Regions from separate parts of the Homo sapiens genome. Here region 1 is linked to region 2. The links come from fine-mapping of genetic effects on gene expression. A gene starts in region 2. The other region holds a variant in brackets. All regions are shown on one strand. Distances are between the middles of the regions.

Region 1 (5,358 bases), 33 kb after region 2:
ATTGAGATGGCCCGGTTCCTCTGCAGGTCCCCACAGCCTGGGAAGAGGAGAATCTGAGAGCACGGCCGCCTGGGGGCAGGCCGAGGCAGGCGGATCCTGAGGGAGCAGCCGCCTGGTGCCAGGCCTGGGGAATTCCAGGAGGCAGAGGCCTCAAAAGCCCTCCTCCAGGCTCCGAGTTCCCAGCAGCCCCTGCCACATTCCTCCACCTGGGTGGGCAGGGGTGCAGGGGCTCAGTGCATTCCTGGTGGAGATAGGGAGGCCAGCCTGCGGCCTGCGCCAGCCTCCTGCGGGGCCTGGGGAGCCCTGTCCAGGCTCTGCCGAGCTCAGCATATTGGAGCTGAGCCAGTCGGCCTTTGCTGGAACACTCAGGCGGAGGTCGCCTTTCGCCTTTCTGTGTGGGGAGAAGCCACTTGCAGATAAGGCAGGGATTCACCAGCTCCGGGGGGCTGGCAGGACATGGCCACACTTCACCTGCAACCAAGCCTCCCCATCTGTAAAATACAGATAACAAGGGGGCCAGGCGGTGGCTCACACCTGTAATCCCAGCACTTTGAGAGGATGAGGCCTGTGGATCACTTGAGGTCAGGAATTCGAGACCAGCCTGGCCAACATAGTGAAACCTTGTCTCTACTAAAAATACAAAAATTAGCTGGGCGTGGTGGCGAGCACCTGTAATCCCAGCTACTCAGGAAGCTGAGGCAGGAGAATCGCTTGAACCCGAGATGCAGAGGTTACAGTGAGCCGAGATCGCGCCACTGCACTCCAGCCTGGGCGACGAGCAAAACTCCATCTCAAAAAACAAAAAAAAACAAGAGCAGGTCCCTCGCAGGAGATGGGAGCCAGCTCCGCGCCCGGCCTGATGTCGGCTGCACGGGCTGCCTGGCTCTCCTGCACAGAGGTGGGAGGGAGGCACGGGGGGGCCCAGGTCAAGAAAACACAACCCCCACATGTTCAGGGGGCTGGAGGTGGGGGCTGCGCCTCTGACCTGAAGCTGCCCAGCAAGCCCTTTGTGGAGCCAGGAGCAGGCAGTGGGCAACTGGGCCGACAGGCCCTACCCTGGCCGCCAGGAGGCTCCGTGGCAGCTGCTCTCTTGCACGCCATCCCCACTGCCACTCCCGGGTTCTGAGAGAGAGCCCCATGGGAGGCCACGCACAGACCCCTGACCTGGCTGCCGGGGGTGGTCCAGATCCCTTGCGAGAGGAAACGTGGGCCCCCAGTGGACCCCAGCACCATCTGTGGTCAGCGGGAGCCTTCCAAGTCTCCGTGTGTTTACATTCCCCCAGGAAATAGCTCCCCAGAAGAGCTGCAAATATTTTCTTAATGTTGGAACTTGTGGCAAACAGAGGCCTGGAGTGGGCCCACCCACACTTTGCCCCTCCACACATCGGGGGCCCAGTGGGATCCTGGGGTTACCTCCTCACCTGGCCCACCCCCTCCCCCTCCCCCTCCTGGCAGGGGACAGGCACATGGGGGCCCAGCTGGGGCATCTTCCTGCCGGAGCTGGGGCAGCCAGCCCAGGGGATTCAGTGGCACTGCCATCCTCCCACCTTTCAGCCTTCCTTTCGTGAAACTGGGCTGGCAATAGGTGGAGGTGGCTGAGGTGTTGCTTGGCGGTTTGAATCAATGAAGACCCTAGGGGACGGGGGTCAGGCCCTGGACCTGCCTAGTAACTCAGGCTCCTGGCAGACCGGGCTGAAGACAGAGGCAGCTGCGGGGCTGTCTCTCCCGCCCCAGGCTGAGTCAGTGTGTAGGGCTGGGTGTCCTGGGTATGTGATGGCCCTAAACACAGGCCCCCACCTCTCTGTGCATGAGCACAGGTCCAGCTGGTGTTGGCAGGCTGTGTGGGTGGCCCATAAGCACCAAGAAGTACCCTGCTTCTACTGACCTCCACCTGAAGACTCCCAGGCACCTGCCCGCCTGAACTGGCTCTGCAGGCTCACTCAGCATCCACGTGCTCCTCCCTCTCCCCCTCCACACTGGCGAGGGGCCAGTGGCCATGGCACATCCCAGGCCTCCGGTCCCTGGTCCCTGGGCAGCCCCTCCAAGAGCCTGCCTGTACAGAGTGCCGCTCCTGTCCACTGATGTCTACTGTGTGGATGGACCACGTTTCTCTCCCCAGTCGACCCTGGATGGCCGTTCGGGCTGTTTCTGCCTGATGGCTCTGGTGCCTGGCGCTGCCGTGCGTGTTTACCCACGAGTGTCTGTGCAGAGACGTGTTTACGCTTCTCTCTGCAGCTACCAGGTGTGGAGCTGCTGGGCCGTGTGCAACTGTGTTCAGTCCTTTGAGGAACCACCAGCTGGTGTCCTAGCAGCTCCCACACTGGACACCACACTGGTCCCCGCAGGATCCTGCCTGTAGTTGTTATTGTCTTATTTCCTGATTCTGTTGGTGGCTATAGAGTGAGGATCACGGTGTGGGCCTCAGGCGGGCATAAAAAGAGGCTGGAGTCTGGGCACTGGGCCCTTGCCTGCCACGCCTGGTGTGGGAGGATGTGGGTCCCGGGGCAGTGGGAAGGTGACGGGAGAGGGGCGATCGGTCATTCAGCCACCATCGTCCAGCAGCCCAGCGCTGGGCTCGGACGCAGCAGTGAGCACACGGAGCTGCCTCTGCCTTATGTGCTTTGTCTGGGGGGCTGATGTGGGTCAGGAGATCTCATCCTGGACGCCCAAGGACACGCTGCACTGTCCTCTGTGAGCCGGGGGCAGCAACATGCCTCCCGGGCAGAGGGCGCAAGGACAGAGGGCCCATCCCTGTTGTGGATGGCACTTTCAGTGTGGAAGTGCGCGGCCTGGGAGCCGTCACTCCTGGGATCCTGGTTCACTGCAGAATCTGGACCAGCTCCTGGGCAGGAACCGTGGCCCGTTGTGTCCCAGTG[A/G]TGGCACCAGCCCCCAGACTAAGCCAAGCCCCACGTTCGATCCAGTCAAATAAAGTGACCGAGGCGCACACCCGCGATCCCTAGTGAACGTGACCGAGGCGCACACCCGCGATCCCTAGTGAACGTGACCGAGGCGCACACCCGCGATCCCTAGTGAACGTGACCGAGGCCCACACCCGCGATCCCTAGTGAACGTGACCGAGGCGCACACCCGCGATCCCTAGTGAACGTGACCGAGGCCCACACCCGCGATCCCTAGTGAACGTGACCGAGGCGCACACCCGCGATCCCTAGTGAACGTGACCGAGGCCCACACCCGCGATCCCTAGTGAACGTGACCGAGGCGCACACCCGCGATCCCTAGTGAACGTGACCGAGGCGCACACCCGCGATCCCTAGTGAACGTGACCGAGGCCCACACCCGCGATCCCTAGTGAACGTGACCGAGGCTCACACCTGTGATCCCTAAGACCCTTGGCTGAGCTTGGCAGGGCTAGGGCAGCAGCGGGGGGAACACAAAGAGAGCAAGAGAGACAAAGAGAGATAGAGAGACACAAAGACAGAGAGATACAGAGACAGAGAGAAACAGAGACAAAGAGACAGAGATCGAGACAGATGGAGACAAGCAGAAACGGAGAAACAGAGATAGACAAAGAGATAGAGACAGAGACAGAAATAGAGATGGAGACAAGCAGAAACGGAGAAACAGAGATAGACAAAGAGATAGAGACAGAGACAGAAATAGAGAGAGAGATGGAGACAAGCAGAAACGGAGAAACAGAGAGATAGACAAAGAGATAGAGACAGAGAAATAGAGACAGAGAGTTGAAGACAGAAACAGACAGAGAAAGAGATACAGAGATAGAGACAGAAACAGAGACAGACAGATGGAGACAGAGAGGCAGAGAGTCAGAGGGAGAGAGTCAGGAGAGGGAGGGGTGGGAGGGGGACGCTTCCCTCTGCCCCAGGGACCCTGGCTAGCCAAGGCACACACCAGGGCGCAGGCAGAGGGGATGAAGCCCCGTGGGCGTCCATGAGGCTGGAAGCGGCTGACTGTGGGGCCTGGGGAGTTGCCCTTGCAGTGCGGGAAAGCCAACCCGGATGAGGGGAGGCCTTTGTCCTGAGGAGGGGCCTTTGCAGAGCTGCAGGTGTTCCCATCCATGTGGGACCCCCAGCCAGATGTCCCAAGGTCGGTGAGGGGCCGGGCCAAGCTGCCTCCCTCTGAGGGGTTCTCAGCCCAGGAGGCTGGGTTCATGGGAGACATTTGAGGGTGGGCTCGTGGGGGCCCTGGCCTCGCCCAGGGCGCAGTCCCAGGTTCCTGCCCAGGCTCTGGCTCTGCCCACTGGGCCCTCCTGGGAAGTCAGATTCCTCCTGGGCTTCGAGGCCTTCTGGCCATATAAGGCCGTCTGTGGGCACCTCCTGGAGAAGCTCAGAACCCTCACCCCCCACCCGCCCCACCCTCTATGAGAACCAGAGCTCAGCCAGGCAAGGACAGAGGCAGGGGAGGGCCTGCTGGAGCCGTGGTCCTGTGGGGGAGGAGGGCACAGGCAGGCCAGGCCCCAGGGGTAGAGGCTCAGGGTCCCGAGTCACCCTGCCCAGCATGCTGGGGCGCCCCCATTCCGCCTGTTTCCCCTGGGGTTCCTGGCCCCTGGAGCTCACTAGGGCTCCCCAGTCTAGGCCTGAGGCAAGCAAGTGGTAAGAATGGGGGTACGGGGTAGGGGGACCGCAATTAAATAAGATTAAGGTGACACGTGGAAGCGTAGGTGCCCGGCCTCGGGGTGGACGCTGCAGCCGTGTGCCACTGCATGTTTACCCCGGGCGATGCCTTTTCTGGGGCTCCCCAGAGATCTGGGGGCAGGAGTCCTGGACTCTGCCTCACACCCCAGCAAGGTGCTGGGAGGTGCCCTGACAGGGGCCCCCACTTGAGGGAGGGGATGGGTTGGGGTCCTGGGAGCAACCTTGTTACTGGACCGGCCCCTTCCCTGCCAAGTTGTAGGTGGTTAGATCCCAGGGAGGTCCCGGGCCCCCTCCCTGGGAGTTCCCAGGGCCCCCTACTCCTTCCCTCCTAAAGGCTGGCAGGGTGGAGGCTCCCCTACACCCAGCTACACAGGCCCAGGCCGGGGCAGGGGCATCCAGGTGGGATCCTGGACTCTGGACTTTCGGTCGCCACGCAGACCACCCCACAGAGCTCCATGAGGCCCCCCCATTTCTGAGCACCCCAGGTTTGCCTGCTTGTCATGGGGCTGGGCCCGCCTGCACAGGGCACCAGCCCAAGCGCTTCTCCTTGCCACTTGGGAAGAAAAGGAGCTGGGTGGGCAAGAGGAGCCTCGGGGAGCATCTGTGGAGAGCCCAAGGAGCCCGGATGCTGACCCTCTCCAGATCTCCGACACTGGGCACCACCTAAGCCTGTCTGCACCCCCTCTGGCATGGGGGCCCACCTGAAACCCCCCAGGTGTGAACCCAGTGGCAGCCTTTGGGTCGG
Region 2 (5,358 bases):
AAGGATCAGGCAGAAAGGAAAGGTGGGGGCCACGGAGGGGTGCCAGGGCAAGGGGGAAACTAAGAAGTCAGCCCAAGGGCCAGGCCTGCAGTCAGGAGCATCCAGACAGAGCCCTGCGCTTGACACCTGCTCAGAGTTCAGGGTGAGAGCCAAAGAAAATAAGGAGCGAAACTCATGAGCAGGGCCCTCTGCAGCCAAAGCACCAAGGTGAGCTGGGCATTTAAAACCACGCATCACAGGGATGGCAGGACACGGGCCAACGACTGGGCTGGGTGAGGCCTGGGCCAGACTGGGGTGCGGGCCTGACTCAGGGGGCACTGCCTCCCACCTGCAGCCTGTGACATGTCTGCCTGTTGTCCTGAGAGGCCAGAGGGACTGAACTCCCAAGAGGGAAGTCCAGGTGTGTTAAAGGTTGCTTTAATTTCTCCAGAATCACACGAAACAAAAGCCGTGTGTTCCCTACACACTGCCCGCAGGCCAGGTTGGCTTTTGGCCACCCATCGACACCCTGGGGAGGGGAGAAGACTGGCAGCGGGAGCCTAGCAAGGGGGTTCACCAGACCCAGGAAGAGACCCCGTTCCTTCCTCAGCATTCCTCCTTGTCCCTCAAAGTCTAGCTTAGCGCCAGCAAAGAAGAACTGGCTAGGGGCCCCCCTACTGCACAGCCGATCCCCAGGACCCGGCGCTGCAGCCAGCACGGACAGCTGCCTCCTGCCTCCTGCGTCCTGCCCTCCACCCTCACTCGCCCCTTTCTGTTCTCATCTGACACCAGATTCTCTGCAAGCTGCTGGTGTATGGCCCACCCTCCCCTGTCAGGCCCCTCCTCCTGGTGATAGCCAGCAGGGATGGAGGGCCCACTGTGTGCCTGCCCCAGCCTCAGCACCCTACAGCGCTGGACACACTCACTCCCCGCTCACGGGAGCCCCCAGGCACACAAGTCAGCACCCCATTCTGTGGATCCAGAATCCGCAGCCACCCCTCTGCTATGCCACCCAGCCCCGCGTTCTCCTAGACAGGACAGCTGCCCACCTTCCCCTAGGCCTGGCAGAGGCCTTGGAGGCCAACTTGGAAGGGCGGAGGGAAAGGAAATGGAGGTGCTGCATGCTGCGTGAGCCCCAATGGTGGCCCGTGAAGGCCCACAGGAGGGAGCAGGCAGGCGGGAGGTGGGTAGGGGCCTGAAGGGCAGGGGCCCATGCTAGGGGTGGTGATGAAGACCCTGTCTTGCCCACTCGCCCACTGCCTTGTTGGCCATCATGCTGCCTCCCCACACACCAGGTGCTCCTAGGGCCAGCGCTGTGCCTGTCGGTCCCACCGGGTCCCCAGCACCCAGCACAGGAGAGGCTGGGCGCATGCGGGCAGGTGCGAGGTACTGCAGCGCATTCGCGGACTGACCACTGCATGTGCCTGGCCTCCGGCCACAGCCCGACCCCCTCACTGAGCCAGTTTCATCCTGACAGTACCCTGAGGCTGAAATCATTGTCCCCTCTTTAAAGATACGTAAACCCATGAAAGAAAGCTGGACAGAGCAGGCAGGTGACACAGAGGTGGGTGCAAGGTCCTGAGTCCCTCCACAAAGATACAGCGGGTTCCCCTCCAGACTGCAGACAGGCTCCCGGGCTCCAGAGGCAGGCCCTGACCATCCCGGTGCCACGGGCTCACAGGTTCTGAAGTCAGGGGCACCCAGGCACAGAGAGGAAACAGGCCTGGGCACAAGGCAGGCTCAAGGTCACTTTGCTACTGCAGGAAGTGCAGGACTCTGCCTGGGGCTTTGATCCCAAGCAGGTGCCTTCTCCACTCAGACCCTCGTTCCCTTCTGTCAATGAAGGAGGCCAGATGGCACGCGGGCCCTTCCGGGAAGCGGTGGGGCTCCTCCAGGGGCCGCCCTGCGCCCGCTGAAGCGCCGCCCAGACACACCTCCGGACAGGGAAGTGTGCTGGGGCCTCACCCACGCCGCCCTGGGTCCGGAGCCTTAAAATGTGCGCTCGATGGAGGCCATCCGCGAAGGCCGCCATACAGCAAAGGGAACAGAAAGCGAGAGCCCCGCGGCCGCAGGTCCCAAGACGGGGACTCGAACCGGCGGGGAGGCGCGCAGCTCCCGACTCCCTGCTGCTGCGTCCGACCGCCTCTAGGACCCAGGGGAGCGCCCTGAGCGCGGCACCTCGCTGGCCAATGGGAGAGCGCGACGGCGATACATTTGCATGTGGGCGCGCCGCGGCCAATGGGCGGCGGGCGCGCGGGCGCGCGGGCAGGGGGTGGGGCGCTTCGCGGCGGCGGGCGCAGTCTGAGGATGGCCGCGGCCGCGGCCGGTGGAGCCCCGGGCCCGGCCCCCGGCCCCGCCGGGCCCCCGCCACCCGCCGCGCCGACCTCGGCCGCTCGGGCCCCGCCGCAGGCGCTGCGGAGGCGCGGGGACTCGCGGCGCCGCCAGGCCGCGCTTTTCTTCCTCAACAACATCTCCCTGGACGGGCGGCCCCCGAGCCTGGGCCCGGGCGGAGAGAAGCCCCCGCCGCCGCCCGCCGAGGCCCGCGAACCGCCAGCGCCGCCGCCGCCGGAGCCCCCCACCGGGCTGCCCGCCAGGACCCCCGCGCCCCAGGGCCTGCTCAGCCCCACGCAGGTGCCCACCGGCCTCGGCCTGGATGGGCAGCGCCAGAGGTGAGTGGGGGCCCGGCCAGGTCAGCCCAGGACGCGGGGTACAGGGACGGGGACGGGGGCCGGATCAGCCCAGGACTAGGGGTCAGGATTACTTGGGGCCTCATCAGCCCAGGACAAGGGGGTCAGGTGACCTGGGGCCTTGTCAGCCCTGGACAGAGGCCAGGACAAAGGGGTTGGGTTCACCTGGGGCCTTGTCAGCCCTGGACAGAGGTTCAGGTGACCTGAGCCCCTGTCAACCCAGGACACAGGGGTCAGGGTCAGTCTGGGCCCTCATCAGCCCAGGACACAGGGGTTGGGTTCACCTGGGACCTTGTCAGTCCTGGATACAGAACTGGGGGTTCCTGGGCTGGCTGAGGGTTTCCTCAGGCCCTGTCACCCCCCACACATAGGGTTCATTGTCCCCTGAATTCTCCCAGCCCCTGAATACGGGGTCTGGATCTCCACGTTGTCAGTGCTCTGAAATGGGTTTTAGGGTTCAGCCCTTATTACCCCTGAGACCCCCAGCCCTGTGGGTTCTGGACATGCCCCCACCCCCATCCACTGGTACCAGTGCCCGGGACACAGGGACACATGGACAGCCCTGTGCATCTCTTCGCATTCTTTGAACCGGGCCACACCGTCCATGCCCACCTCCTCAGACCCAGCATGTGGGCCGGGGTCCTCCTGGCACTGTCACTGACACCTGTTCCCAGAGGCCCCTGCACAGCCACATCTCCCATCCCACAGCCACTGGTCTCTGGCACCCCTCCTCTCCCTGTCACTTCCCTGCTGAGCCCCGCCCTTCCCCACATCACTCTCAGCTCGGTATCTTTGGGTCTGTCACACCCTGGGTCTCCACTGCTCCCCCTGCCTTGATTCCATTTCTGGGAACCACCTCAGCCCATCCCAGGGCAACCCCAACCATGAGCCCTGCCTGTCCAGCGTGTGCCCCCTGCCCAGATGGCCCCTGGCTGCCCGACACCCTGTGTCCTTCTCCCAGAGACCACAGGACCTGGGTGACCCTGCCTCCCACAGCCCTCACCTCCAGGAGTGACTGTGGGCTCTGGGCCCAGGACTGGCTGCTTGTTGCGGTTCCTTCTCAAAGGGAGCCACTGTCCACAGGTCCAAGTGCCTGCTGGGCGGCTGTTCCCAGAGGCAGCCCCTGCAGGTGTGCAGCAAAGGGGCCGACACAGAGCTCTTGGGTCAAGGCTGGCACGTGCTCCTTGCTTACCTGGAGGTCATCAGAGTTGCCCCACGCCCCTGGCCTTCGGGCAGGTGGAGGCATTGGGTTCCTCTAAGGTCTTTGGTTGGGGAAGTTTGGGCCCAGAACACAGCACTCTGTCCTCAAAGACTATGACGTCACATGCAGGTTGCGTCACACGCAGGTCGCGGTGCACTCCATCCTTGGAAGTGTTCCTGGCCGTAGCCAGGCTGAGGGTGCCTGCAGACCCAGGCCTGTCCACAAGATGTCCCCCCACGGACATGCCTGGCCGCTGCTCCAGGGAGGGTCAGAGGGATGATTGGGGCAGAGGGATGGATTTGCCCAAATGTGGCAGCCAGGCCCCATGCATTTGGCATGGCCAGCTCCTTCAGGAAGGCGGGAGAGATGGAACAAGGTGGTGACTCTCCAGGGCAGAGCGGCAAGGCCCTAAGGTGTGGACTCCAGGGGAAGCGGGCTCACCCCAACGGGCCGAGCTCCGCAGGTGTGGTGGGCTTTTCCCTAACCCCGGGCCCTGTTGTTTGACATGGAAACAGCTTTCTCCCTCAGTCCTGCATGTTGAGTGTCCAGAACCGGATGGTGACACCAGGCAGACTGGGTGCTGTCATAGGCCCTCCTTCCACAGAGTTCATGCACCCCTGTGTGCACCAGGCCTGGCGTGGAGTGGAGCCCACTTGAGTGGAGGGAGGCAGAGCGTGGCGACGCGCAGGGAAGTGCCTGTGACTGAGAAGGCACCCCCTGCAGGCCCAGAGCCTCCATGGTGACAGTTCTGAGCGCAGCATGCTGCCCACGTGCAGCACATCCCTGCCCTGTGGGATTGTTAGAAGGTGCGCTGTGGCCGGCATCCCTGGGACAGGATGGGACGTGGCATGGGCTGGGTGCCTGCAGTCCTCCTGCCGTACCCACCATGGGCCCAAGCGCCACCACCCCTTGCCTTGCCCAGGGCTGTCTCCTCCCTTCCCTCCTCCTTGGCCCCCATGTCCCTGTTCAGGTCTTTCCTGAACCCCACTCTGTTCCTGGAGGGGGAGGCGTCCCTCCTGGGGCTCTGCTGCCAAGTTCGTGGTGCTGACCTTGTTTCTGAGGGCCATGGCCCCTCCCTGATAGGTAGACCCCAGCGTGAGGACGTCCATTTCACCCTGCGTTCCCTGGGCCTGGCTGCTGATCGAGGGAAGGGTGGCTGCCCCGGCAAAAGGGGCTGCTAGCTCCTGGCTTGAGAGTTCTAGGATGAGTTGGTTTCAGGAAATGGAGAGAATTCTGAAAGTCCTGAAGGCAGCCCTGATGTTGGTCTTGTGAGTGTGGTGGTTTGACCTGGGCTCTGGGAACAGACTTGGCTTGGAATCCCAGCTGCACTGTTCAGTACCTCTGTGACCTTGAGCAGGTGACATGGCCTCTCTGAGCCTCAATCTCCTCTGAGAAGCGGGTTCACACTAAGCACTAAGCATGGCCTCCCTGAGGTCAGAGGTCAGATGCGTGCCCAGGGCTTGGTGAGGTATGTGGCAGGAGTCAGTGTGA

The links. PIP is the estimated chance that this variant, and not a neighbour inherited with it, causes the effect.
Region 1: its variant is the best candidate, but not a certain one, in a credible set for the expression of CABLES2 in whole blood (TOPMed, PIP 0.70).

The regions. Positions count from the first base shown.
Region 1 is chr20:62,371,403-62,376,760 of GRCh38, reverse strand. It overlaps LOC105372708 (a long non-coding RNA gene), which reads left to right. Exons shown (of 2, transcript XR_936966.4): 2 at 1-2,946. Among named protein-coding and RNA genes, the nearest start is that of LAMA5, 6.8 kb to the right of the region's middle. RefSeq lists enhancers at 1,161-1,762, 1,763-2,366, 5,049-5,358. The variant A/G (reference allele first, on the strand shown) is at 2,877.
Region 2 is chr20:62,404,205-62,409,562 of GRCh38, reverse strand. CABLES2 (Cdk5 and Abl enzyme substrate 2) reads left to right here and starts at 2,278. Exons shown (of 10, transcript NM_031215.3): 1 at 2,278-2,648. The coding sequence starts at 2,287. LOC105372709 (a long non-coding RNA gene) reads left to right here and starts at 2,669. Exons shown (of 2, transcript XR_936967.3): 1 at 2,669-4,673. RefSeq lists a silencer at 2,112-2,361.